Linked DNA regions of Homo sapiens: regions 1, 2, 4, 5, 6 and 7 are each reported to be linked to region 3. The links are microRNA targets in miRTarBase. Many come from high-throughput screens and were not tested one by one. Region 3 holds a microRNA gene; each other region holds the end of a gene's coding sequence.

What was found. Region 3 holds the annotated microRNA hsa-let-7b-5p (UGAGGUAGUAGGUUGUGUGGUU, at 2,942-2,963, opposite strand). A microRNA usually pairs through its seed, bases 2 to 8, with sites in the 3' UTR of a target mRNA and lowers its output. Matches are read on the target gene's strand: a 7mer-m8 pairs with bases 2 to 8, a 7mer-A1 pairs with bases 2 to 7 and ends in A, and an 8mer does both.
Region 1: miRTarBase lists SLC30A7 as a target of hsa-let-7b-5p. The part of its 3' UTR that is shown has no 7-base or 8-base seed match.
Region 2: miRTarBase lists PRIM2 as a target of hsa-let-7b-5p. Seed matches in the 3' UTR shown: 8mer at 3,630-3,637.
Region 4: the mRNA of SLC30A1 is a reported target of hsa-let-7b-5p. Seed matches in the 3' UTR shown: 8mer at 4,037-4,044.
Region 5: miRTarBase lists CHRAC1 as a target of hsa-let-7b-5p. The part of its 3' UTR that is shown has no 7-base or 8-base seed match.
Region 6: the mRNA of NAA15 is a reported target of hsa-let-7b-5p. Seed matches in the 3' UTR shown: 7mer-m8 at 2,374-2,380.
Region 7: miRTarBase lists C19orf47 as a target of hsa-let-7b-5p. Seed matches in the 3' UTR shown: 7mer-m8 at 2,987-2,993.

Annotation. Positions count from the first base shown.
Region 1 is chr1:100,974,156-100,978,223 of GRCh38, forward strand. SLC30A7 (solute carrier family 30 member 7) reads left to right here. Exons shown (of 11, transcript NM_133496.5): 11 at 655-4,068. The coding sequence ends at 702. Among named protein-coding and RNA genes, the nearest start is that of DPH5, 50 kb to the right of the region's middle.
Region 2 is chr6:57,645,884-57,649,951 of GRCh38, reverse strand. It overlaps PRIM2 (DNA primase subunit 2), which reads right to left. Exons shown (of 14, transcript NM_000947.5): 14 at 3,102-4,024. The coding sequence ends at 3,794. Among named protein-coding and RNA genes, the nearest start is that of TRI-AAT1-1, 150 kb to the left of the region's middle.
Region 3 is chr22:46,112,589-46,116,653 of GRCh38, reverse strand. It overlaps MIRLET7B (microRNA let-7b), which reads right to left and starts at 2,968; the gene lies at 2,886-2,968. It overlaps LOC124905135 (collagen alpha-1(III) chain-like), which reads right to left. Exons shown (of 2, transcript XM_047441696.1): 2 at 2,726-4,065. It overlaps MIRLET7BHG (MIRLET7B host gene), which reads right to left. Exons shown (of 5, transcript NR_110479.1): 5 at 2,726-4,065. MIRLET7A3 (microRNA let-7a-3) reads right to left here and starts at 3,905; the gene lies at 3,832-3,905. It also overlaps MIR4763.
Region 4 is chr1:211,571,658-211,575,725 of GRCh38, reverse strand. It overlaps SLC30A1 (solute carrier family 30 member 1), which reads left to right. Exons shown (of 2, transcript NM_021194.3): 2 at 1-4,068. The coding sequence ends at 338. Among named protein-coding and RNA genes, the nearest start is that of SLC30A1, 5.5 kb to the left of the region's middle.
Region 5 is chr8:140,514,881-140,518,948 of GRCh38, reverse strand. CHRAC1 (chromatin accessibility complex subunit 1) reads right to left here. Exons shown (of 3, transcript NM_017444.6): 3 at 1,795-3,823. The coding sequence ends at 3,702. Among named protein-coding and RNA genes, the nearest start is that of CHRAC1, 5.6 kb to the right of the region's middle.
Region 6 is chr4:139,387,649-139,391,716 of GRCh38, forward strand. NAA15 (N-alpha-acetyltransferase 15, NatA auxiliary subunit) reads left to right here. Exons shown (of 20, transcript NM_057175.5): 20 at 236-3,736. The coding sequence ends at 436. Among named protein-coding and RNA genes, the nearest start is that of RAB33B-AS1, 64 kb to the right of the region's middle.
Region 7 is chr19:40,318,617-40,322,684 of GRCh38, forward strand. C19orf47 (chromosome 19 open reading frame 47) reads right to left here. Exons shown (of 9, transcript NM_001256441.2): 9 at 920-3,760. The coding sequence ends at 3,266. Among named protein-coding and RNA genes, the nearest start is that of C19orf47, 28 kb to the right of the region's middle.

The DNA.
Region 1 (4,068 bases), not on the chromosome of region 3:
CGTAGTAGTGAAGTTTGGGCTTTTAGTGCAACTATCACCTGAATAGTGTACATTGTACCCAAAAGATAATTTCTCATGAGGTTTTTTCAAAGATAGAAACAGCTACAGTGTGTTTGTATGCTAATAGAAGTGATCTAGTTGAGAGGAAGTAAATTGATAATACAGAAGATATTGGGGAGAATTTAGAGAGCAGTATCCTTGAGTAGCAAGTTCATATCCAAAACAGAAGAGAGAACTTGGAGTGCAAAATAATTCCAATAGATGGTTATACTTGCTAAATTGTTTACTAATCATTTATCACAGGAGGATTTAGACAGGGTTGATGTATCAATTTCAACTAGGAGCCAACCAGTCAAGCATCATGGTGTCCTCTAACAGAGTAACTGTAGAAGGTGAACTGCATTTTTCTAAGTATCACCTGGATATCTGGATAGGGTGTGTGACTGTTAACATGGCTCTTTTTTTTTTGTTTGTTTTTTTGTAGTGGTAAATGGAGATTATTTTTTGTAGCTTATGAATATATTTGTTTCTGAAATGATTCTTTTCTTTTTTTAAAAAAGTGAGATTTGTAAAAGAAAAAAAATACTTTCCTGAAATGTGTAGGGTGTTATTAGCTTGTTAGATTTTCTAACTTTTTTTTTTCTTACTTTTCAGGCTGGAGTGAGACAGCTCTACGTACAGATTGACTTTGCAGCCATGTAGTGAATGGAAAGAAATTATGCACCTTTTATGGACCAAATTTTTCTGGTACTGTACGATCCAAAACATTGTACCCAGCTTTTTAAAAGAGAGAAATTATCACTACAACTCCCGAGCACTAAGTAGACGGGGTAGAGTCAGCCGTTCATGCTTTGTGGGGAGTTCACAGCTAAGGGATCAGATTTAAGAGGATATCTCCTGGACTTTTGGTCTTTTCTTTTGTGCTCTTTCCTCCAAATCTTTTTGACTTCTGAGGTTTTTAGCTTAGGATGTTAATTTGTCCTTTTGTCTTTCTTTTTTTGTTTTTGTTTTCTGTTTGTTTGTTTTCATGTTGAATGCCCACACCACCATCCTCTCATCCCAGCCAGTAAGAATTTCAGTTGTGGGCCTCCAGTCTTCTGGAATGTCTTCACTGCAGCTGCTGGAAATCACTGCTTTCATTCCCACAAAACCAGTATTACTTTTTTTTAAAAAAAGAAAGAAATTGGAAATCTGTGCTATACGTAATGTCATAATTGTTGACGTTCTTCAGTATAATCATGTTTGTTAAATTGTTTGTACCTTGCAAACTTATGAACCAAACCATATTGGGTTTTCAAAGTGCCTTTGTATCCAAAAATGTATTTGCCAGCATAGAAATGTACCATCAAGAGTCATGTATGTTTTATTTTTGTTTTTATTTTTTATTTTTTGAGATGGAGTCTCGCTCTGTAGCCAGGCTGGAGTGCAGTGGCATAATCTCAGCTCACTGCAACCTCTGCTTCCCGGGTTCAAGCTATTCTCCTGCCTCAGCCTTCTGAGTAGCTGCGACTATGGGCGTGTGCCACCATGCCCAGCTAATTTTTGCATTTTTAGTAGAGATGGGGTTTCACCATGTTGGCCAGGATGGTCTTGATCTCTTGACCTCGTGATCCGTCCACCTCAGCCTCCCAAAGTGCTGGGATTACAGGTGTGAGCCACCACGCCCGGCTATGTTTTTTTTTTTTTTTTTTTTTTTTTTTAACAATGGATATTCTGTAAAATATCCTGTACAAAACAAGACTATTGCCAGTAATGTATACAAATTGTCTTTTTGTGTACTTCCAGCATAGGTTTGGATATATGAACATTTTTCTTTTATTGTTTTATCTTCACAGAAAATAAAAGGTGTTAATTTGCTTTTTAAAACAAATTTAATTATCACATTTTAAATTACTTTGTGGACTGTGTTTTCAAAACTTTGCAAATTCATCTGTTACACAGAAAATTTTGACTTAAAACATCTGCTGAATTCCAAATTTCTGTAATAGCTACTGTATCTGTGATAAACTTTCCTATATCTTTCCTTGCCATTTCTATGGATTTTATAATGAAAGAAAAAGGCATTGGAGACTGAAGGCAGAAATGGTTGTGACAGTGCTGTTTGGCTTTTTCATTCTTCAAATGCCAAGTCATCCACTTTGTTTTCCTGTTTAGGCTTTGCACAAATACAATTGCTTTCAGGAATCCTAAAGCAGCATTTTATTGAGTTTGAATTATTAAAGGTACAGAGGAAATGTGGTGATGTAGAACTTTTCCTAACACAGGTATCTAGGAAGTAAGTGCTGAGTTGATTTTCTAGGTTCTTACGTATTTGAAAAATAAAATTGCAATTCGAGATAAGTGCTTGAGCACTCTACTTAAGTATTCTCTGTGTTTTATGAAGAGAAAATGATCTGATTTTCCCTTATACTTCATTTTACAATACATATTCCCTTTTAACTTAAAAAAATTGTAAATGTGGGAGAAAAAACCCTGCAGGATGGAAACAATTATTAAGAATGTAGATCAATAAGTACTTTTTAGTGATGTGGCAGAAATCCCTGTTGATTCTAAGTTTTAGAGTGTCTTTTCCCCTATTTCTGACCTACAACTATAAACTACTCTCTATTAGGAGAACTAGACCACTTTCTTCATTCTTTTCTAAACTGCTGCAGATTGCCGTGAACTCTATCAATAGTCTCTTTTCCGCAGGCAAAGTGGCATTTTCTAAACATGTTTGCTTACTGCCAGGTGGTTTGAAATCTATGATTTACTGCAGTAGTATGTGCTTAAAACAACTGTTGAGGTCTTTTAAGCAGGAAAGTTCAAAAGGAAGTGTCCTGATAATGGTACTGGTTTTTCTACAAATATAAGTAGTCATTAGAAGTTTGCAACCACCACCAAGTCTGAGAGAACTCTGGGATATTCTGTGGGTTTTGGCATATTAGATAGAGAAAATGACAGATCTAGATGAAGGGAGCTTTTGGATGTGTGCCTTTAAAAACTGATTATGTATAAATACTGATATTTCACATACGGAGATATTTGAAGACCCAAGTCTGCCTTTCACAGAGCCCTCCATTCCAAGTTTAGTTTTTGTCAAAATATGAATCATTTTATTTGACTGTACTATCAGTACACAAATGCATGAGTATGTTTATACAGTGTTAGACTGATGTGAATTTGCATTTGTTACATTACATTGCCAGCGCATATCATTTAGCAAGTTGGCATTAACATTTATGCTTTAATTAAATGCCAGTATACCTATGTGTGCAGCAGTAAAAAATTAGTGAGAAAAAGCAACTTTTTGTCACTCTTAGGAAATATTTTGTCTTATTAGTGTTCTTGGCACATGTATATTACTAAAGTAGATAATTCCAATGAGAAATACTACCAGATTATTGTTATAAAATTAATTTACAATGTCCCTGATATTGAGCTAACTCTTAAAAAAACCAAACAAAACTCGTATCTGAGTGTAACTTTGCCAATATTTTAAAAGCCAAAATATTCTCTGGACAACAAATTTGTATTGCTCAGGGACAGTTTACCTTGCCTGGTAAACCTTCCCAAACAGAAATATAGCTATACTATCTTTGGTTTTGTTTTTTTGTTTTTTTTGTTTGTTTGTATTAGATGGAATTTCACTCTTGTCGCCCAGGCTGGAGTGTAGTGGCGCAGTCTCAGCTCACTGCAACCTCCACCTCCCGGGTTCAAGTGATTCTCCTGTCTCAGCTCCCTGAGTAACTGGAATTACAGGTGCACGCCACCACGCCCGGCTAATTTTTGTGTTTTTAGCAGAGACAGGGTTTCACCACGTTGGCCAGGGTGGTCTTGGACTCCTGACCTCAGGTCATCCTCCTGCCTCGGCCTCCCAAAGTGCTGAGACTACAGGTGTGAGCCACCGTGCTCAGCCACTAGCTTTGGTTTTTTAAACATAGATTATATTCCTCAAGATGAAGGGCTTAACATATCCACAGCTTCCTCAGTTTGCTAACTCCCCATGCATCTTTGTGAAGGACAGTATCTAGTTTATCTGTAGGTCAGTGTTCCTTGTGCTGTCATTTCCCTTATATCTGGAATTTG
Region 2 (4,068 bases), not on the chromosome of region 3:
TGTGAGAAACATTAACTCTTCAGGCCAACAACGTACCACCAGAGGTCCACTCCCAAATAACGCTCTGTGTCTTCCAAAGGGCCTTACAACCAAACCAGCACACCTATCCAAAACGCAGCTTCCACACACCATGGCTCTGTGTATTGAAAGGAAGACAAACTGAATGAAGTTCATAAAATAAATTCCCCATCTCACTCATTTGTCAGAGGGAATATCTGCCAGTATTCTCTGCAATACAGGACTCTGCTTACCCGATTTCTACAGGGAGCTCTGGACTGCCTTCCTGATTCCAGCCTCTGTCAACCTTTTCTCTCCCTCCCTTTGCCAACATTAAAAAAGAAGTTAACAAATGGATCTAATTACCACAGTGGTTTGAGGCTTCTCAACGTTTTTTTTTTTCCCCTTCCAGCTGTAAAGATGTCCTCAGACTGAGCTTCACATTCAGAACTGCTGTCAAACTCTCACTTTAAGGGGCACTTAAATTTAATGTCAAGCTGATGCCTGCGGAAGACCTTGATTAAATTTGCAGAGTAGACTCTAACTGAAACAGAACTTTAGAGTTGTCTCATTTCACCCTTCAAGCTTAAATCCCAGAAGTTTTCTTCTCTTCTTTGTAAAGAATTACAAAGTTTGCTTGCAAAGACCCTGAGTATCAATAAGACAGCAAAGTGTAACAAGCAAAACACCCTGCATGCTTTTAGAGACAGAAGAAATCCCTTAGCTTATTAAAATTCTATGTGAATTAAAGATCTTTCCCATTGCTTTATTCCATTCCCAGCTCATTCGAAATCTATAACTATTTACTTTTATGACTCTATAATATTATAAGCAGTCCTAAAAAGTTTACTTAAAACCTTCCTAGTGTTCTTTCATGCACATGGCAATTAAGTTTTGTACTGTATGGACAGAGTGAAAAACATTATGGAAAAACAACTTGAAAGAAATGTGACAGAATTTCTCCTAACAATGTCATTGCTTCAACCAGCTACAAATTTCCAACCTAGTTTCTTTCTTTTGCTGTTTCTTCTTTTGTCTTTGATACAATCATACAGCCTCTCTTCCTTGAAGAGATAATAAAAGACTAACAGTTAAAAGATCTGGAAGACTCATATTCTTTTCTTTTTCACTGGCTACGGTTTTGAAAAGAGGCTGTTGGCTTTTGATTTTTTCTTTTGGGTTCTTTACATCGCCCAATTCAAACAGGTCTGCTCTCAAAGAAAACAAATCAAAATTGTCAAGACCTGTGAAGCATGAAAAATAAATTGCTTTTTCCAACTCCAAAAAGCACCAGAAAAGCATTAATTTTGATCTTTTATAAACCTCTATCCCCTATCCTCTAATCTATAGATTTCACAGAATGTTTATATATTCTTCTGTATAATACAGGAGATCAAACCTTATTATGAATAAATTGAATTGAACCTGTAATACAACTAATATTTAAACTAGTGTTATTTTGGAGTTCAACTAGACACATATAAAACATTCAAGTGAGATGACACAAATTCCTGGGGCTGCCAGTATAAAATAAACAGTCCAGTAAGCTGCATCTACCATGCCGTTAAGGACTCTGTCCTTTTAGCTGGTGGGAGCACAGGCTTCATAAAAGAAGGAGAACATGAAGCAGTAGAAAAAGACAGCCTTGCAAAATGCTGCCAGATACAAAACATTCTATCAGAAAATTTCTCATTGAACTACAGTGGCGAGAGTGCTTCTAATATCTCCCTTCTTTTAACACAGCGAAGACCTACATTTCTATGCTCGGCTTTCTAAAGCTAACTTAATTCTGTGGTTAAAACAGCTCCAGGTAGCACTTGTTCTTTTTTTTTTTTTTTAAAGAAGGACTTGTGGTTTTGCAGTCCATGGATAAAGTGGTAGGCAATCATCAGATTCCTGTTGAGAACGACAAATGATGAAGGGAGTAGCAGATGGTTTCAGAAGGCAGAGATTTATAGGGGTAATTTGTAGTGGAATAATACTATTTTCTGAACTAGGTAATAATAATTCACCAAGACAAGTAAAAGTTTAGATAGATAGTATCTCATTTAATTATATGTTGCTAAATATTCCAAGAAATCTTTGACTCAGAAGCCTAAAATGAAAACTCAATTAGTTGACATTTTTAGTTTCTGATGATCTGATCCTGTTTAATCCTTTTCATCATGATGCAGTTTATCACATGATTAAAAATATGGTGCTGCTAACAGTCTAGTTTTCTGAATACAATGTGCTCTTTTCAATTTAGTTACTATCTGATTCAAAAGGATAAAAGTATCCCTCTTTACCAGGAAAAGAAGACAGAAATAGACGAATACTTTTCACATATTCCAAGGTAATAGATGAGGAAGAACTATGTTTCAAACAGGGTTTCCTGAGCACCCCAAATCCTATTGGTGAGTGAGTAGAGCCCCAGGAGGAAATCACTATTTAGATGAGGGTATCCACAATGGCACTGCTCCACAAGGCATACGTGCCAGGGATCATCAACTTCACCTTACTCCCTTGACAAAAGCAGGCAGAGAGAACAGGGCATTGATCTCGTATGTTTGTAATCATCCACAACATTTATTAAATTCTATTGCTGGCACTGAAAGGAGGGGGTTACTATAAGTATCACTATTCATTGCTCAAGTAAATTAATTTAATTTACCAAATCTATTTGGTAATTCACAGCAACTACAGAAGTAATAAGGTATGGAAGTTGGAGGGTAAAATAAACACTTTATTTTATATGTACAACCTTCTTGCTTGGTAATTGTCTATTCTTCATGAACCTGTCCCCAGAGTAATGGCAGCAGATAAGACGTGCCATTATTTTACATAATAAAATATCCCTATTATTCCTTAATAAATATAACTGGCTATACTTTATGTTAATTCCCAAGTCACAGTTCACTCAGGAGGGTCTGGTGCCACTCAAAGGTGCCTGATGTAGAATAACCACAAATAGGTCAACTCTTAAAAAAAGGTAAAGAAAAGTTTAAAATCTTCATTAGTGATCAGCAGTGTGTTGGATACTCCAAATTACCATTTTAAAACTGAAGTAATGTCCAATCTGTTACGACATAAGACTCTCCCAATTATACGCAGACACTGTCATGTACACTTTGATATTTATTAACAAAAATGGTCCAGAAAAGGATTGAGTCAAAATTACAAAGTGATTAAGAGTTAAAACAAAAGTTGTTCTTTATTGTAGTTTCTGGGGGACTTTAACCAGTCCCCAAAGCTGTTTTTATCTCCTAAAATAGGACTTAAATGACATCACTCAAGTGACAGATTTTAATAGAAACTCCTCCTCTTTCCTTCTGTCAAAGCAAAATATAGTGAAAGTCTCTGTTGTTACCTCAAACCTCCTTTCCTAATAAGTGTGCATGCCTGTAGATGGATTGGGATGCAGTGAAGAGAGAAGTTAAACAAAAAGGTTAAAAAAAAAAAAAAGGCCAGGCACAGTGGCTCACAACCGTAATCCCAGCACTCTGGGACGCTGAGGTGTGAGGATCGCTTGAGCCCAGGAGTCTGAGATCTGCCTGGGCAACATAGGGAGACCCCCCACCTCTACAAAAAAAAATTGAAAAAAATTATCTGGATATGAGGTGCACACCTGTGGTCCTAACTACTTGGGAGGCTGAGGTAGGAGGATCACTTGAGCTGGGAAGGTCAAGGCTGCAATCAGCTGTAATTGTGTCACTGCACTAAGCCTTGGTGACAGAGTGAAACCCTTTTTCAACAACAAAGGCAAAATCTTAAAAACAGGAAACAGGCTATTGAGGAAAAAGGGTTATAAAACTGCCTAAGAATCTTCACTAAAGTAATCTTCTAGTCCTTCCATATCCATTTCCAGAGAGGAATTTAAAGAGGCCAGAGCAGATGATGCATCCTTGGTTTTCTGGACACTTGGTTTGGGTTGAGGAGTTTCTGGTTGGATAGGTTCCTTCTTTATGTCTTTACCACCATTTAGAATACGTTGGCTCTCACAAAAGAACTGATTAGGATGATTCAAAGAAAAGCCACAATCATCCACCTGTAAAGGAAGGAAATTTATATTGCATTAATGCATGGCAAAGC
Region 3 (4,065 bases):
GTGCAGGCGGGGCTGGCCTCGGAGGTGGGGGCTGCTGCCACACGGTGTCGCTGTCGGGAAATGCACAGTCCGAAGGCGGGGGTGGCTGGCGGGCAGTGGCCCAGGCTGCCCAGGCGGGGCGGATGGTGGGGGAAGCAGGGCAGGGTGAGGGATCGCAGGCATTGAAGGAGGCACTGACCTCCCGGGGCAGGGCTCTCTATGGCTTCCCTGGCAGGGCATGTGGCCCTCCTGGGCCCTTCCTCCACAATTCACAACAAAATCACAAACCGCACCCATGACTGGGGTGGTAAGACACCCAGAACCCAGGCTGGGTTCGCGCTATATTCACCCCATCATCTACACCAGTCTATAATATACTCATTATACATTATATATTCAGTATTGGAGGGGTCATTTTCCCTTCCCGTTTTAAAAGAAATGGAAACAAGACTCTTTCTGGGCTCTCACCTCTGTGCCCCGTGCTGATGTGTGACCCAAGAAAGGCCCCCCGGCCGAGATGCTCCGTGTCTGCCACCTTGCTGGCCTTGTCCTAGCCCTGGCCCTGGATGGCGGCCCTGTCCCTCGGTGCTCAGGCTGCCGGGTTCAAGTGGTGGGCTGGCTTTGCATCCCTCCTAGGAAGGCCAAGGTCAGCGGTGGCCTACTTGAACCTTAGGGCCCAGGGGTCTCTCAAAGGGCCCACTCTGGACAGCCCAGGAGCCCCCTCGAGTCTCTCTGAGCCCTCATCTCCTCGGAGGACAGGGCCACGCCGACCTTTCTTCTGTAGGGTAAGGCTGTGCTCTGGCGGTACTGCCTGAGCTGGGAGGGGTCCGTGGCACGTGGCTCCCGCACAGCCCGGGAAGCTGGGGCCATCCTGAAGGTCCTTGGTCCCCGGCTTTCCTCCCTGGACTTTGTTCTCAAGGCAACTCATCCACATCCCTGGGCACTCTGATCTGGTATCAGCTTAAATCCTCATGGGCGCCCTGGGAGGTGGAAGCTACGGTGACCCCACTGCGAGATGGGAAACAGGTTTGGTGAGCAGAGTGACCAATCTAGGCCTGTCACCCCCAGAACTTCCACAGGCTGCCCTCATCCTATATTTTGGGCGAGTTTTGGCAACCCCATCTCTAGGGACGGCCAGTCAGCAGGGAAGGTTTTGGTCAGCTGGAGGGTAGGGAGGGAAGTGGGGTGAGCCAGGCATCACCTCCTCCAGGAAGCTGCCTCTGACTGCAGGGCTGGGTCCAGGGATCCTTAGGGTTCCCCAGCCCTTGGGCTGCTCCACTGTGATGTTGACCCCAACACATGGCCACTGTGTGTCCCTGGCAGCTCCCCGACCAGGCCTTGAGCTCTGCAGGGCCAAACCCTGCTCCAACTACACAGTATGGGGGCTGGGAGGAGAGGCTGGCTCCTCGGGACGTTCACAGTCTGTTCAGACACAGACAGGGGCTGCGGTGGCCAGAGATGGGTCTGAGCCGTGGACTGAGGGGTGGGGGAGCGGTGGTGAGCAGGAGAGTCCTGGTGGAGGTGAGCACAGGCATGAGGGAGGGGTGCTGGGAGGCAGTGCAGGCAAGGGTGTCAGCAGAGATCTGCTCCGGAGACAGAGGGGGCTGCTCTGAGACTCTGAGGCCTGGCAGTGGGAGTGGGGAGGGATGGAAATGGTGTTTAGAGGACAGAAGTGGCCAGATGTGGCTGCTGACTAATTATGGGGTGAAGAAGGGGATTTGGACAGTGCCCATGTGTCACCCACTCTGGCCCCAGAGGATGATGGGAGAAGGGACCATGGGGCACGTCACTCATCTCCAGCTGCAAACTCCTACGCAGCTGTCAAGACCCAGCTCAGATGGTCCCTGCTTTAGGAAGCCCTCCCTGCCCTTGGGCCCCTCCTCCACGTCCCTTTGCCCTTGGCCCACAGGGTGGCAGCAGCTCCGGGAGGGTAGGCAGGCCTGGGCTCTGAGGTGTTTGCCGTGCAGGACTGGCACAGATGGGTGTCAGGGTAGGGGTGCCGGTCTGCCCAGACGTGGCCATGCAGGGCTGGGGTTGCCTGCAGAACCAAGGCAGGCCAGGAGGGCACAGGGGGGAATCTGGGCCAAGATTGTGGCCTGGGTCAACAGGAGGGGCGAGGATGGGCACTTGGGTGGGGGAGGTGTGGGCCCAGCTGTATCAGCCCCTCCCCACCAGGGGCTCTCGGTGCTGGGCCAGGCATGAACAAGCCCACCCCACATGCCCAGGGCGGGATCACTGGGCCCAGCCTACGGCAGCTGCTAGACGAGGGCCTGAGGCCTCCCAGGAGAATGGGTGCACTTTTGGGATGGCAGTCTGTCAGAGGAATTACGGGTGCCCTGGAAACTGTCCTGAGGGAGGACGGAAGGACAGGCACGTCCAGACTTTGGTCAAGGCACTTAAGGCACGGAGGTGGCCTCAGGAGCCAGGACTTGGCAGTGCTCTGAGCTGCTGACCTGGGGCCTTGGTGGCTGCCCCGTGGGGACCTCTCCACCGGGCCTGGGTCCCGGTGTTCAGCCCGCCTGGCTCAAAGGCAGCACGAGAGGGCAGAGAACGGGCTGGGCCTGGGATCCTGAGCCCAGGGTACAGCACGGAGCCAACTGAGGACTCTGGAGGCACCGGGAGGCGTGAGCAGACAAGTCTCATGACCTGGAACAGCTCGTGGCCAGGGGCCTCCACACTGTCCCGCAGCAGACGCGCCCCAGAGCCCAGTCCCTGGGCTTCCAGAATGAAAGGGGCCAGTTCCAAGTTCATGGTCAGAACAGCTTTATTGAATCTAGCTCCCAGATGCCCACCCAGCTTCGGCTCAGGCCCCCTGCAGGTCACTGAGGTGGGGGGCAGCCCTCCCGTGGGGTCGTGTCACTGAGGTAGGGGGCGGCCCTCCCATGGGGTCGTGTCACTGGGCTCCTCAGGGAAGGCAGTAGGTTGTATAGTTATCTTCCGAGGGGCAACATCACTGCCCTGAAACCACACAACCTACTACCTCACCCCGCCAGGCCCGGCCTTGCACTGCGGGAGGGCCCGCCGCCCCCCGCCCAGCACCAGCCCCTGCCTGGCGGTCCTCAGTCACCAGAGCAGGAGGGCTGGGCAGGCGCAGGGCAGGAGGGACAGGGGAGATGGCACCCCAGGAAGGGGCAGCTGCTGCTGGCTGGTCTTGGGAAGTCCCTGGCTCTCTGGGCCTCAGTTTCCCCAGGTACAGAGGAGCCACTGTCTGCCTTCAGATTGTGCCATGTGGGACCCAGTGTATGCAGAGCTGTTCCTCTCACTTCCTGCTCAGGAAAGGTGCCTTGGCCTCCCTTCCTCCACAGGCAGAGGCCCTGCCACTGAGCTGGCCAGGCTGGGGCACGTGCTGGGAACCTGGGGTGATGGGCAACGCCAATACTCGCAGCCCTGTGACCTCCAAACGTCTCGGCCACCCCTGGCCCCACGGTGCCTTCTCCTGGTGCTCAGTGGAGGGTACGGCTCAGGGCCACCCATGAGCCTGGGCCTGATGGCGGGGGGAGTGTTGGGGAGTGTTGGGAGACAGAGGTCAGACAAACAGCTGCGTGGATCGCCTCTCTCAGTGCGGCTGGGGCAGAGGGTGGGGTCGGCTCAGCTCTCCTCTGCCCTCGATGCTCCACACTGCATCTCCTTCCATCCTCATTTGCCTCCATTTTACAGAGGAGGAAACTGAGACCCAGAGAGATCAGGGGCCTGTCCAAGGTCACACAGCAAGTGGCACCTAGGCCTGTCAGACTTCTCAGTGTAGGCGGCCCCTGCCCCCGACTGCTGCCAAGGCTGCCCCCAAACCTGGCCCTGCCCGCTCCCAGCCAGGGTTCCAGACGCTCTGTCCACCGCAGATATTACAGCCACTTCAGGAAAGACAGTAGATTGTATAGTTATCCCATAGCAGGGCAGAGCCCCAAACTATACAACCTACTACCTCACCCCAAAGGGCAGTCGGTCTTGGTGCCGATGGGACTCCGTGGCTTCCAGAGGCACCTCCTGGGGACGCGGGAGGAAAGAGGGCTGAGGAGAACAGGGGCTCGAGGCTCGGCAGGCCACACGCACCAAGGGCACAGGGATTCTGGCGGGCAGGCGCGGTGGGCG
Region 4 (4,068 bases), not on the chromosome of region 3:
ACATGGAGGTGGCTAAAACCATTAAAGACGTTTTTCATAATCACGGAATTCACGCTACTACCATTCAGCCTGAATTTGCTAGTGTAGGCTCTAAATCAAGTGTAGTTCCGTGTGAACTTGCCTGCAGAACCCAGTGTGCTTTGAAGCAATGTTGTGGGACACTACCACAAGCCCCTTCTGGAAAGGATGCAGAAAAGACCCCAGCAGTTAGCATTTCTTGTTTAGAACTTAGTAACAATCTAGAGAAGAAGCCCAGGAGGACTAAAGCTGAAAACATCCCTGCTGTTGTGATAGAGATTAAAAACATGCCAAACAAACAACCTGAATCATCTTTGTGAGTCTTGAAAAAGATGTGATATTTGACTTTTGCTTTAAACTGCAAGAGGAAAAAGACTCCACTGAAATTCTAAGTTTGCCAAGTAGTGTAATTGAAGTCCTTGTCTGGTCACACAGTTTAATTCTATTTTTGTAAGAACATAATGGGACTGCATAACAGAGTTCTATATTACAATTTTGTGATTATTAGTACAGAGTACAGCTATGCTGTGACTGTTTTGGAAAGCCAGTTTTAACACTATGTTACATTTTTGTTTAAAGTAAGTTAAACCTTATATAACATAATGACATTTGATTTCTGGATTTTTCCCATGATAAAAATTAGGGGGATAAATAAAATTGTTACTGGAATTTCTCTGCTTTTCTTTTCCCCCAGTGTTATACTTTATTAGAATTATAATTGATAGAACTTTAAAATCATCAACAGTTTGTTTCCTTTGACATTTTAGGTGATATTGCCCTTTGAGATCATTACATAGCATAATGGCAGCATATTTTAAGAGTGACTCATGGCTATTAGTAGGAAATAAGATCAGTTACTATCCTGTATTCTGTATTGCTGGCTATTAAACAGTAAGATAATTAACAAATTGAACTACAGTTTACACACAATGGGGCAAATGGGGTAGTAAGAGCAAGGAAGAAAGTTTACCAAACTAAATATTTAGGTTATTGTATGATAATATTGAGACTACATTTCTAAATTATTTTGAGAATTTCAACTTTTTATTCTACCAAAGTTAATCTGAAACTTGGACATGTTCACCAGCATTACTTTCTTTGAAAGATTGGTATAAAAACATTGAGCTGCAAGTTTATTTACAAAATATATAAGTATTTTTAAGGATGTTGACACCTAATAATTACATGCTAAACGCAAACGATTAATGTAATCTTTTAAACCGGGCGTTTGAAAAAAAATTTTCAAGGTCATTTCATGATAACCAATCATGAATGGATTTAAATGGAGCTTTTTGAGCACAACCAGCAATGTTTGTGCTTTCTAAGAGTCACTGACTTGAGAGGAAAGAAAACCAGAAGGTTAATGCAGTTTGGATATTAAATTCTTAGCAAAATTAATAATTAAAGCAAAATTAATTAAGATTTTGTAAGTCATCCTGTCTTCACATACTCAGATCTTCCAATAGTGGCTTATTTTGCAAGATGCCACAATATCTACACAGAAAATTGTGGCTATTTCATTATTGCTATAGATTTCAAATCCAACACAAATATTTAAGGGTGTTTAAGTTATATTTTTCTTGATAGAGGGTATGCTTTGTGACAAAATTAGATTTTTGTCCTTGAAAGGATTAATATTAGCATCAGTTATGTATAGCTCTATTTTTCTAGAAACAAGGTATTCTGACTACTTTTATAGCTGACTACTTTTGGGATGGCTACGTTTTGGGATTTAAAATAGTTCATTGTTTAATGGGTTGTAAGAGGAAAAAGTGTTAGGATTTGACAGTTACTTTTTAAAGGGATGATCTTTTGTGGTGTGTGTTTTTCCTAGTATAAGCCTATTGCTGGCGATGGGCCTATTTAAGAACAGCTGATTTTTTCCAGTGAAAATATGGTAATTTTAGGAACACAGTTTGTAAGTTCACATTTACTATAATGGGCCAAAACCATAACCTGCCAGTTTGCAATACATCTTGATCTTTTAATATTCTTATCTGATATTGTGTAATTCAATTCCTAAACTGATAGTTACCTTGAATTTTGCGAAAAGGTTTGGGTGGTTTTTTTTAAACATGAAATTGAGGGATCTCATCTGGGCGAACAAGAAGAGAAAGCTGTGAATTGTACTGTATCATGTACATTCCTGATTTAATACTTTACAGAACATTTTATTCAGATATCAATTTGTTACATAAACATTTCAGCAATGATACAAAGATAACTGATAAAATATATTACATTCAATGAGGTTTTCTTTACAAATGCTCTACTTGAGGTCTGTGTCTTAAAGATGGCATGACACCTAAGTACAAGACATCAACTGAATGAGGATTTTAAAAAATGGTATATAAGCATAGGACAAGGGCTATGTTTGTTTGTTTTTCAAAAGTGCTTTGAAGATAACAGCCTTTAGGTTTGAGTTATTTCACTTTTCATAATTTTTAAGTAGCTTATATATAATGGTGGTACCATAGGATTTTCTTTTTTCAAATGACTGTCGGCAGAAACAGTGGGCACTGACTCACCTTTTGAGTTTTAGCAGAGAATTATTTATTTCTTTACAATGCACTTTCTAACCCATTGTAGCTATATTAGCATTATCTTTTAAAAAAGACATGCTTTTGTATTTAAATATTGTAGGATTTAAGTGTCTTTCTCAAAATAGCTTATTCCTTTCTGAAAGAAAATGAGGGAAATACTCTGAATTATTAGGAGACTTAAACCCAATATTTAAATATGCTATTTTATAACACTGCATCAGTTTTAGGAGTTGCATCTCTCCTGCTGGCTCTTTTATATTTGAGCAAGATCAGTGTAGAATATGTGTTTAGAAACTTGTCTGTTGTCTCAGTTTAGTGAAAAGGAGGTGCTGCATGTGCCTGAATTAAAACCAAGAAATTTTTCCAAGCCAAATGCAGCCTTAGTGATGAGAGATTTAATTCTCCATTGTCACCTTTTAGCTTTTATGATTGCTTAGTTTTTTCTGAAGGATGTCTGCATTGTAAAACTATGGACTAAAACCTAAAAAACAGAATCCTCAAAAACTTTGCTGTATGTGTTTTAACATTTTAGAGAACAGTATGTTGAATAACTAAGGTATGTAACTTGAATAGGAAAAATGTCCATCAAATGCACCTTGGAAAATCACAGTAGGTAGAAGGCTGTGTTAACCGTTTGTGTCTTATTAACATCCTTAAGTTAATTTTGAATTTTTGACAGTTTTGAGGGAAAAGACCTATGGAACCTAATGTGAAGTATTTCGTATGTTAACTGGTGTTGAGTTGAAGATTTTTACTGTGTATAAGCAGATATCATTTGAATGATAAAAATGTCATTAACCTGCTGTCTTAAGATGTTCACACAAATATGGAGAGTAATTCTACAATATAAAAATATTTATTTTAATACTGAGTTTCAGTTAAGTCATAAACAGTGTTAAAACTCTTGGGAAGGTGTAGGGGTTTTTTGTTTGTCATTTTTAAAATTGAAACTGTGTCATACAGTGTTTCACGTCTCTGAAATTGGGATTATAATAGCACTATTTTGATGTAGCTCTACCGATACTATGTGGTAATGCTATTTTGTTTTACTAACAAGCTCTGGAATATTTAGCAGTCATTTTCACTGGCACAAGAGCCTTTTGTATGTTATTCAATTTAAACTTTTAAACCAAAAATTTTATGGTCCAGTGTCTTTGGCAAAAAGATGCTGGAGGGAATGTAACATACAATTAATATGTGGTTATATATATATATAAAAAGACACAAATTGCCATGTTATGGTTCTGCCTTGAAACAGCACAATGAAGTGTATCAGTATATTCTGTGATTATGAAACTTATATGTTGTGTTGTTTTGTGTCTTCTGTTGCCTGTCCTTTGGGCCAGATGTGGGCCAGTTAAATGCAGTTATCATCTCATTAAATACAGATGCAGATAAAATATCTTTAGTGCTGCAACATTTTACCTAACTTTTTGTATGTTTTCATGACTGTGTGTTATTTTCCAAAGCTGTTCCTACCTCACCATGAGGCTTTATGGATTGTTAT
Region 5 (4,068 bases), not on the chromosome of region 3:
TACTCACTTGATATGGCCTTTGTTATATTCTCGCTATTTCACCATCATTTACTGAATGGCCAGAAGCAGTAATGGTTTAACACTTGCAAGCGAGAGCAAAAGATTCATCTTCATAAAATCATTTTGATAATCTGACAGCAGTATGCAAGGTGGAAAGAGGAAAGGCTGTAGGCACTGTGAGGAAACCACTTAGGAAGCTACTGTAACAACCTGGCACCCGGTTCAAGGAGGAACTGAAAGGGTGAGTGTTCCCTGAATGATCGGATCTCAAACACTTATGGTGCCTTAAGAATGCTTCAGGCTGGGTGCAGTGATTCATGCCTGTAATCCCAGCACTTTCAGAGGCCGAGGTGGGTGGATCACTTGAGGTCAGGAGTTCAAGACGAGCCTGGCCAGCAAGGTAAAACCCCATCTCTACTAAGAATACAAAAATTAGCCGGGCATGGTGGCACACACCTGTAATCCCAGCTACTCGAGAGGCTGAGGCAGGAGAATCACTTGAACCTGGGAGGTGGAGGTTGCAGTGAGCCGAGATCGTGCCATTGCACTCCAGCCTGGGTGACAGAGCAAGACTCAGTCTCGAAAAAAAAAAAAAAAGATGCTATTAAGAGAATGAAAAGTGACTGGGAGAAAATGTTTGCAAATCTCCTATCAGGCAAATAACTTGTATTAAGAATATATAAATCTCTCAAAACTCAACAAAAACTGACATGAATTTTTGTAGGAGCTGCAGAGCCACTGGAACTCACTACTGGTGGGACTGCAAAATGGCACAGCCACTTTGGAAAACAGTTTGGCAGTTTCTTCTTATAAACGTCTGTATCGCATTCCACTCATAAGCATATACCCAAGTAAAATGAAATCCCGTGTTCACACAAAACCTGTACACAGGCCATGCACAGTGGCTCACACCTGTAATCCCAGCGCTTTGGGAGGCTGAGGTGGGCGGGTCACTTGGTTGAGCTCAGGAGTTCGAAACCAGCCTGGCCAACATGGCAAAAATCCATCTCCACTAAAAATACAAAAATTTGCCAGGTGTGGTGGTGGGCGCCTGTAATCCTAGCTACTCAGGAGGCTGAGGCAGGAGGATGGCTTGAACCTAGATAGGAGAAGTTGCAGTGAGCCAAGACTGCGCCACTGCACACCGCCCTGGGCAGCAGAGTTTGCGAGACTCCATCTCAAAAAACACAAACAAAAACCCTGTACACAAATACTTATAGGGCTTTATTAATTATAGTCATCAAGGCCAGGTGTGGTGGCTTATGCCTATAATCCCATCACTGGGAGGCCGAGGTGGGCGGATCATTTGATGTCGGGAGTTCGAGACCAGCCTGGCCAACATGGTGAAACCCCATCTCTACTAAAAGTACAAAAAAATGAGCCAAGTGTGGTGACGCCGTGCCCGTAATCCCAGCTACTCAGGAGGCTGAGACCCAAGAATCGCTTGAACCCAGGAGGCGGAAGTTGCAGTAAGCCATGATCATGCCACTGCACTCCAGCCTGGGTGACAGAGTGAGACCCTGTCAAAAAAAAAAAAAAAAAAAATTACAATCATCAAAACTAGAAACAATCTAAATGGGTAATTATCCATATACCTGGAAAATGGATAAACAGATACATCCATACAATGGAATCCTACTCAGCAATATAAAGGAATGGACTGCTGATACCTGTGACAACACGGATGAATCTCAAATGCATTCTGCTAAACAGAACAACTGCAGACTCAAATGCTACATACTGAATGATTCCATTTATATGACATTCTGGAAAAGACAGGCCACCAAACTGGTCTGTAAGCCAAATCAAGTCATTTTTTAATGGCACATAAGCTAGCAAGTATTTACATTATTAAATGGTTGGAGAAAACAGTATTTCATGACACATGAAAATTACACAAAACTCAAGTTTCAGTTTGCAGAAATAAAGCTCTATTGAAACACAGCCACCTGCATTCCTTCATCTAGTAATTACCTGGCTGCTTTCGTGCTACAACAGCTGAGTTCAGCAGCAGCAACAGAGACTATAAAAGCCCACAAAGCTTGAACTATTTACTGCATGGCCCTTTCCAGAAAAAAATTTGATGACACCTGGTATAGGGACAGAGAATAGCTTGACGGTTGCCACGGTAAAAGGTGGGGAAGGAGCTGACCACAGGGAATTTACTGGAGGGTGATATAGCTGTTAATTGTGGTGGTGGTAGTGACTTGACTGCATTTGCCAAAACTCAGAACTGTACACCAAAAAGTAGATTTTAAAATATTTTATTTTAAAATAAATGTCAATGAACAAGAGGGACAGAAAACACCAGTGGTTGCTAGGGGGCAGGAGAAGAGAGGAACAGAGGAACAGAGGGGAATGTCCTGGGTGGCAGAACTGTCCTATCGATTGGTTACAAAACCATGCATTTGTCAAAATTCACAGACTAGACACTAAAAAGGGTGATTTTACTGAATGTAAATTATAAACTTTTTCATTTTTAAAAAAGAGATAATGAAGGCCAGGCATGGTGGCTCACGCCTGTAATCCCGGCGGCACTTTGGGAGGCTGAGGCAGGTGGATCAGTTGAGGTTAGGAGTTTGAGACAAGCCTGGCCAACATGGTGAACCCCGTCTCTACTAAAAAATACAAAAATAGGTTGGGCATGGTGGCACACGCCTGTAATCCCAGCTACTCAGGAGGATGAGGCAGGAGAATCACTTGAACCTGGGAGGCGGAGGTTGCAGTGAGCTGAGACAGCGCCACCGCAATCCAGCCTGGGCAACTGAGTGAGAATCTGTCTTTAAAAAAAAAAAAAAAAAGATAATGAAATGAGAGGAGCCAAACATTTACCCTAAGTGGAAAAAAAAAATTGGGCTTATGATAGGTTTTCTCTTATAGACAGTAAAAAGAAGTGCCAGGAATTTAAAGCAAAGAACAGTAAGATGAGAGAGATCTCCAATATACAAAATGTTTCAAAATTTTTTTTTAGTACAACATGCTTATACAAGAGGTAAGACTTATTTTTGTATTTGATTTGATAATTTGACTTGGAATTTTTCTGTGGGAATAAAAGTGTTAGAATGCTTATTTTTAAATTTCTCAAAATTTGCAGGCAGTAAGCAAGGCCTTAAAGCCATAGAGGGCTCTAAAACTAGTTCCATAAAGCATTTTACTGTAAAAATATGTACAGATCTTTAATAGAAAAGTATATTTCTTTACAGTAGAAAAATATCTGAACAGTCAACTTTTCTTAAGACAAAAATTCAAATGTAACATACTACCTAAACTATAAATTTAGCTAAAACTGAATCGAGCTGTTTATAAGAACTGATTCCAAAATATACATATATGAATTTACATAACCGATATGTAGAAGCTCTTCAAAATCGACTGTAAATTGAAAAGTTAAAATTGGCCTTGCCTCTGCAGTTTGGAGCTGCAATGGCTGCCAGTATCGGCTGTTTTCTTGGTGCCTGAGCTGCAGGGTGGGCCTGTCGAGGAGGGGCTGCTGTCTGGGTCGCTTTCCCTCTGGCTGTCTGTGGCGTAGGTACATGAGGTGCTCAATCTCGGCCTGGAAAGAATACCTCGAAAGAATACCACACACTGGAACTCTGTGAAGAAGTGAAGACGCTAAAAGCGGGCAGTGCTGTGTTTACTTAGAGACAGTGGAGTGGGTCCAGGGCTGTCCTCGCCAGGCTGGTTTTTAAAGCACTTTTGGTTTAGGAGTCAGCTTCATCATGGTCACTTTCATTATCATTGTCATTCTCCTCATCTTCTTCCCTCTTTTCCTCTTTAAGCATTTTCAGGTATTTACTAGCTAAAATCTTCTTTGGTAATATATCTTAAAAACATAAAGCGTACATCAGCAATTGGTTATGGTAGACTATGAACACAGCAATGCACATTTCAAAATGTACTAGTTCCTGCTTTGACCTCTATAAGAGGTTCCAAAACAAGATGAAATTCAGGCTGCATTTCTGGGTAAAATATCAAAGAAACTAGCATTGTCTCCTAACGAACGCTATAGGCCTCTTTCCAGTCCAATGAGTACAAACCATGGTGTCTCTATGAGCTGCTTTTATGAGC
Region 6 (4,068 bases), not on the chromosome of region 3:
TTCCTGTTTCTGCAGTCATCCCTGTTTAGCCTTTTGTATAAATCCTGCAATTCTGGAGAAATGGTTAAATTAGGCCTTGAAGAACATTCTAATAGAATGCATATGCAGGAGTAAATAGCTAAATATGTGTATTTATTTCTTATTTTAGAAATCTCTTGCTGTTGAAATGTCTAATAAATTCCCAGTAAGAACCTTTTTTTGACCAGTTACAACATGACTTTTTTTCTTTCCTTAGACATGTATGGAGGTATTGGAAGCCTTGTATGATGGTAGCCTAGGAGACTGTAAAGAAGCTGCTGAAATTTATAGAGCAAATTGTCATAAGCTTTTCCCTTATGCTTTGGCTTTCATGCCTCCTGGATATGAAGAGGATATGAAGATCACAGTTAATGGAGATAGTTCTGCAGAAGCTGAAGAACTGGCCAATGAAATTTGAACATCACTAAACAAGCAAATGGAATGACTTTGGACCATATCTAGTATATAATATTTTTGTCACGCACCTGCTGCATTGCTCTAACTTACACAGAATGAGAGGAGTAAATGTTCTTGCCTTCAAATAGTGTTTTACGTTTTTTATCCTGCTGAAAAAGTATATATAAAATATCTAACATTACAGGATAGAGGTTCAGTTTCTTAAAAAATTAAAGCTGCTAAAATTGAGTGGTTAAAAAAGATACCTTATCCTATTCCTCCCCACCCACCCATGTTTTTAAACTAATTTATATAAAATCTGGAGGCTGTTACAGCTAACAAAGCAGGTGTGTGGCAGAAATATTACTTTAAATTTGTCTTGTGAGATTTTACTATATCTCAGACAGCATAAATGCTGTTTTAGCACTGGATTCTTTCACTGAGCACAAAGAGTTGTTGGGGCTTTAGCATCTGACTGATTTTGTTACGGGGTTGATTCTGACCATAGGAAGTATGCAATGTGAATCACTATTTACAGAGAAACCTACAACAGATGCTTGATGTTGTAGAAACTGGGACATATAGATACCAAGCAAAATTATAAGAAACCTATAAGGTGTTCAATACGCTTGTGTTTCCAAAATTCACTGTACATGATCAGTTTGGTGTTCTTGTACCACAGTTTTTAACTGAAGGAACCAGTTGTAACAGTCTCAATTTTAACTAAAACTTGAAGAACTAAAACAACAATGCAAACCTTTCAGCATTGTTTGGCCAAACTTGTTAAAACTGTAATGCAAGAACCAAATGCACTGTGATGTGGCACCAACTAATTAGCAAGCATGAATTTTTCACCCAAGAGTGAAAAAAGGAAAATCTACCATGGCTTGAAGTTAAAGAGCAGAACTCCTGACTACCATTCTATGACTGATCAAAAGACTAATAGTTAAAAACCTCAGCAGGCCTTGTTCACGATATGCAGAAAAAAAAGTGCTGCAGTTTAGATACCTCTGGAATTTTTCCACAGTGTCACAGGTTTGTAATACTTGAAGCCCTACATTTCTAAGAATATATTTCTTGCTCAGTTGTTTCAGGCAAGCCCAAGACTTTGTAATTTTTAAAGGGCCCAAGATTTTTTTTTTTTTTTTTTTTTTCAAATAACAGACCAGCTTCTTTTTCTTGCAGTTACAGATGTAATTTCCTTTTTGTTGTCAAACATAAGGTACCAAATATGATGCAATAAATTGTTTTGAAAAACAGTTGTGTGAATATTTCAACTAATCTGTGTTGGGCTTCTGTGAAATACACAGGTGGAAACAGAGGTGCAAGCCAGAGGCAATGTAATATGCTGTAAGGCTAGTGCAGATGGGAGCTTTTTAGAAGGGGCTAAGTGCTGGTGTCAGGGAAATTCCATAATGAAGTAGAATGCTGCTCCTGCATTAAGATTTCATTGAGGGCAAGGCTGGTGGCAGGTACTATGAATGTAATTCATAATTTAAAAGGAAAACTAAAAACTATTTTGATTTGGGAAAATGAGCCTTAATTTGTTAAACCTATACACTGAGAACTAGCCTCAGGCTTAATATTCTCATTGCATTTGCAAGATCTGAGCAAATAAGATTAAGTAAAACAAATCAATTGTATATATAATTGACCTTTTTGTGGAACATGTAGTTTATAGAAAGTATACTCTAAAGGGAATTTGCCGAAGACCTTTTACTGATTGAACAGTTGTGCTACAATCAACTTTTCATAGTACATGACCTGCATTCCACATCTCAGTCTAACAGTTTAGTAGTGATGTAAAGAGAAGTACAAACCGAACTCCAGTGCTTTGTTATGTTTTATTAACTGGCCCTGTCTCAGGAACATCTTAACAGATGGCAAAAAAACAAAAACTTTTTTTCAACTCCTATGAGTGGCAACTGAAGTTCTTATTGTTGGGAAAGAACACTAGTCCTACCTCTGCCACTAATGAGGTGTTTGGAGGAGGTACCAGCCATATAATAGGGGGTGTATGTGTGAATTTTGTTTAAACTCTACTGTATATTGAAATGAAATTCATTTATTTGTCTTGACAATGTTCAAATGATGTAGATTGTCTTAGAATGAATATTCATAAGTACTCAGAACTCTTAAGATGCAGATGCCACCCGTGAGGAGCTAAATTCCTAATGTGTATTGTATTCCAACCCAATTTTACTGGAACTATTGAATAAATCTTTTATTTTCTTTCAGGTTTACTTGATAGTGGATACATTGGTGTCAGAGGACCTTGACTGGGTTCATTTTATGTCCAGACATCACCCCTGAAACACTGTACTGTACTATCTTGCTCTGAGTAGTATCAACTGGATCGTCTCATATTTGCCTCATTCATCCTATTAATTTCAAATGATACTGTGGGGGAAAAACAGGGTTAGAAAAACAAGTGGAAAAAATGGAGTGATGTTGTAATCTAAACAAGTGCCTTATGTTTATTGCTAAGAACTGGTGTTACCAACCCTTTTGAGAAGAAAGGGTCTCTTGACCTGTATTAACATAGGAAAGTAAAGTTCTTTTTGTTTTTCTTTATATTCAGCTACTCTTGTCATTTCTCGTTGAAAAACTAAAATCTGACTAGGTTAGTTTACTCAGCTTTAATTAGATAGTTGAGTCATATATTTTCAACATTTTTCTGTATCGTATTTATTATGCACAAAAATAAAGTGTGATCTCTAATAGCATGGCTAAAGGTAATGCCAATATTAGTGAATAGCTTTGCTGTGGGCTTTATCAGGCCCTTGTTTTTCACAGTGTTGTTTGTACTCCATGGTGTATTGCTATTAGAGCTGTGAAATGAAAGCTGTGACTTTATGAAGAGATCAAAAAAAGTGTGGTCCAGATTCAGGTAGGTTGTGGTAAGTTCAGGGAAGTCTTGTATGATTTCTAAGAATATTTCAGTTACCATGTATAGTATTTGGGAAAAGCTGTAATGTAAAATATTGGACTTTGTTGCAAGATAGGTATATACTTGTGTCAGATAATTAAAGCCTTAAATTTTGAAATGAATCTTTGAGATTTCAAAGAAAGACTGACCTTTCAAATAGAAGGCGGTCTTTCTATTCTAGCTAATGCCCCACTTCTTTAAGTTATAAACAAAGTTTCATGATACCATTCTGCTATCATCTAAACTTTGCTGAACTCTACTGCCAACCTACATTAAAAACAAAGTCCCACGAAATGGCTGTGTTACACCATAGTGAGCAGAAACTTAAATTTTGTTCTAATTTTGATGGTTGAAAAATTTCAACCTGTAGCAATAAAACATTTTTGGAAAAGATTACTGAATTGCACTTTTACCTTTTAGTATGCAATCTGAGATCGTTGTTGAAATTAAAATATTGGTAATGTACAGGAGGTTCTGGAGAAAATAATGCTGGTGTTTTTTGTTTTGTTTTGTTTTTGAGACGGAGTTTTGCTCTTGCTGCCCAGGCTGGAGTGCAATGGCGCGATCTCGGCTCACCGCAACCTCAGCCTCCTGGGTAGCTGGGGCTACAGGCATGCGTCACCACGTCCGGCTAATTTTGTATTTTTAGTAGAGACGAGGTTTCTCCATGTTGATCAGGCTGGTCTCTAACTCCCGACCTGAGGTGATCCGCCCACCTCGGCCTC
Region 7 (4,068 bases), not on the chromosome of region 3:
GTGTGAGCTCTTCCTGGTGGCAATGACCTGAAGGGGCGGCCCCTGGAATCTGAGGGCCAGCATTTGCTGTCCTTTGAGGTCAGGCCTCAGCCAGTCTCAGGAGGGTCTAGCCTGGGCCCCCACAGAGAAAGGCATCTATTACTGCTCTCTACAGTTGTCCCTCATCCTGAAGTCCGGCCCTTCACACCCCATCCCCAGTGCCTGGGACACTGCATGACACACAGTCAGCCCCCAATATGACGTAACTGAAAAACTGAAAATAATGGATTTAGGAAGATGAAAGAAGTTCTGGAGATGGATGATGGCGAAGGGTACACAACAGTGTGAAAGTACTTAATGCCACTGAATGGTACAGTTTAAAATAGTTAAAATGGTCCAGGCGCAGTGGCTCACACCTGTAATCCCAGCACTTTGGGAGGCTGAGGCGGGCGGATCACCTAAGGTCAGGAGTTCGAGACCAGCCTGGCCAACGTGGTGAAACCCCATCTACTAAAAATATGAAAATTAGCTGGGAGTGGTGGCAGGTGCCTGTAATCCCAGCTACCAGGGAGGCTGAGGCAGGAGAATAGCTGGAACCCTGGAGGTGGAGGTTTCAGTGAGCCAAGATCATGACATTGTCCTCCAGCCTGGGCAACAAGAGCAAAACTCTAACTCAAAAAAAAAATAAACAATAAAAATAAAATAAAATGGTTAAAATTGTAAATTTCACGAGGTATATTTTCACACAATGAAAATAAATAAATAAACGGATGAGATCTAGTCTCATCTTTACCTGCTCTCTCATTAATTCTCCTCCAACCCCCTGACCTCTCCTAGGCTGTCTCTTTTTGTCAGTTCCTGTTCTCTAAACAGGGAAAGGGCCCCAGATTCCCTCCAATCTCTATGATCCCTTTCCAGCTGGTATTACCAGGCCCTTGGCTTTTTTTTTTTTTTTTTTTGAGATGGAGTCTCGCTCTTGTTGCCTAGGCTGGAGTGCAGTGGCACGATCTCAGCTCACTGCAACCTCCACCTCCCGGGTTCAAGCGATCCTCCTGCCTCAGCCTCCTAAGTAGCCGGGATTACAGGCACCTGTCACCACACCCGGCTAATTTTTGTATTTTTAGTAGAGACGGGGTTTCACCATCTTGGCCAGGCTGGTCTCGAACTCCTGACCTTGTGATCCACCCGCCTTGGCCTCCCAAACTGCTGGGATTACAAGCGTAAGCCACCACGCCCAGCCAAGGCCCTTGGCTTTGATTCCAGCTGTACCCTGCGCACTGTCAGCAGCCATGAACCCCCAGCCCAGGTGTCCGCCTGAGCCCCAGCGGGGACCCTAACAGGCGCAATGCAGTCAGAACACAGCTCCCTCTTCCTTGACCTTCCTCCCGTCTCCCCTTCTCTGTTAACAGCCGTTCCCCCAGATGCTCCGGTCTAACATCTAGGCGGGCCCTATGATTCTCATCTTCTCTAGCCCCAACTTCCAACCCATCAGCACATCCCACAGCTCTTCCTCCAAAGCACACCCTAAGCAGCCCAAGCGGCCCTCTTCCCTGCTCCCCACTGCCATGCCCTCGCAGCCATCCTGGCTTCCTGCCTGGACTGCTGCAGTGGCATCCACCCCAGCCCTCCCAGCCATTCCTTCTCCTCACAGAAGCCAGAGCGATGATCCTAAATGAAACTCAGCTCAGCACATCCCAGCTCCAAATCCTCCCGATCCAGCACTCCCGGGTCACTGTGCACATTCCTCCTCCTTGATCACAACACCCCCAGCCACCTAGCCCCTGCCCACCCACCTCTGCCTCATGCTGGAGGCAGGGCCCACCCTCACCCACAGCCACCAGCCTTCTTCCTGTTCCTTGTCCCACCTCAGCACCTCTGCCCCTGGCTGTCCCTCTGTCTGAAAGCTCTCCTCCTGAACTTCATGAAGCCACATTCCCAACTTGGCCTCCATGTCACCCCTTCTGCAAGGCCTTCCTATCCACAACCACTGAAGCGGCCCTGGCCACTTTCTCCCACTCCTCAGATTCCTTGGCCAGCACCACCGCTTTACCTACACCCCATCCCTGGAGAGGCCCTGCTCACTACCTGCTACCAGCTCCTAGGACAGGCCTGGCTCAGGGGCGCTGTGCAGCAGGGAGGGGTGGGCGACCAAACCAGTGGAAACTCATGGTCTCACAAACGGAGCCCATCATTTGGAAAGGTGCCAGCAGGCAGGTGAAATCCATGGGGGGAGGGGATAGAGTGACAAAACCACTACGGCTTATTGGGGGCAGGGGGCGGCCTAACTGAATGGTGACTGTGGCCATTACTCCCCCTGACTCAGGGCTTGCAGCAGGGACATGGACCATGTGTGTGCAGGAAGCCTGACCTTTAGAGACACAGCCCAATCCTCTGCCACCATCCCCAGCCCAGCTGCGCATAGTGTGAAACAGTCCTGCAACTCACCCTGAAGGAGTGGGGGAAATGATTTGAAAGTCACAAAAATATATTAAAACAGCAGCTGTCTTCACTCTAGGCACTGGCCTCCCTTCCCAGTGCCCCTTGCCCACCACCCGCCATACACTTTCAGAGACAGATGCCCAGGGCAGGAAAACGGATGCGCCTCAGCCGCAGCCCAGGGTCTGGAGAGGTCCCTCCAGCCTGGGAGTAGAGGGCGGCTAACAGTCTCAACAGGCTCGACGCCACCGCCGACGAGGGGGCCGCTGGGAGGCCGGAGGTACAGGAGGGTCGGGCAGGACGCAGCGGACAGTCGGGCCTTGCCACGGGGACAGAAAACAGAAGAGAAATGAACAAAGTGAAGACAGGGAGAGAGAGAAGTCACAGCAGTGGGGGGAGGCGCAGAGGAGTGAGGGAGGTCAGTGGGGAGTGGGGGAAGGGAGGCCCACCAGGTGACACCCACTTAGTTGAGGGGGACAGGGAGGCTGATGAGCTGGGGTCTGAGGCAGCAGACCCTGCTCAGGGGAAGAAGGGGAATGTAGGAGAGGAAGAAGCCCCCTGGCACTTGGGAGAGGTAGAAAAGTGGGTTCTGCCAAGGCCACAGCCAGAGAAGAAAGCACAGAGGACATGAGAGAAGGGGAGTCCTGGAGCAGGCCAGGCCAGCTGCGACGACCATCCCAGGCTAGGAGAAATGGGGTGATCCCCCGAATGCTCGGGCCTAGCTCTAGAGCCCGAGGGAGACAAGCTGTGTCATCCAGGAGCTGGTGGGAGGCGTGATGAAGCCAGGAGCCTGGGGCGGCCAGGGCAGATGCCCGCAGGCTCTGCTGCCTGCACCCCGCCCACAGGTGGGCTAGAAGGTCCTGCGGCCCAGTCTTTTGAACACGCTCACAGTGCCCGCGTGGTCCATCTGGGCACCAAGGCCCTCGCTGGAGCTGCTCCCCCGGGGCCCCACCAGAGTCCTCTTAATGGTGACCTTGACCTCGGCTGAGGACTTACTCTTGGTGCTGGTGACCTGGCTGTCCTGGGCCTCGGGCACAAGGGCAGCTGCGCCCAGTCTCTTGATGATGCTGACTTTAGACAAGGACTCCGGCTTCCTCTCAAGCCCAGACCGTGAGGAAAGCGCCAGGCGCCGCAGTGTCGGGGCAGCAGCCGTTGTCGCTGAGCTTGTGGCCTTGGCTTTGACAGTCAGTGCTGGCTGGGGACTGGCCTTGGCTGGGCCCCGTCCTAGCTTCTTCAGGACCCCGGCATACTGCAAGACAGAGCTGCTGCTGTCATTGTCGCTGTCCCAAGCCAGATCCTCGTCCGTTTCTGGGGTGGCCCCCAGGCGGCTGAAGACTCCTGTGGGCTGTGGAGGTCAGAGACAGGATGAATGAGTCACTGAGTCACTCAACACACATTCATGGAGAGCTGCTTCCTCTGTGCCTGGCCTCCTGGGACTCACAGTTGGGAGAAACACCCATCACTGACACCCCAGATAGTGGCGAGAGCCATGATGGGGGAGTCCAGGGGACTGGAGGAGCCCAGAGGAAGTACCTGACCTTCCTAGAAGTTCAGGGAGGGCGCCCTGAGAGGGGGGACATCTGAGCTGGAAGTAGGTCTAAGAAAGAGGGAAGAGGACGGGAGTGCCGCACAAAGGGAATGTCATTTGCAAGG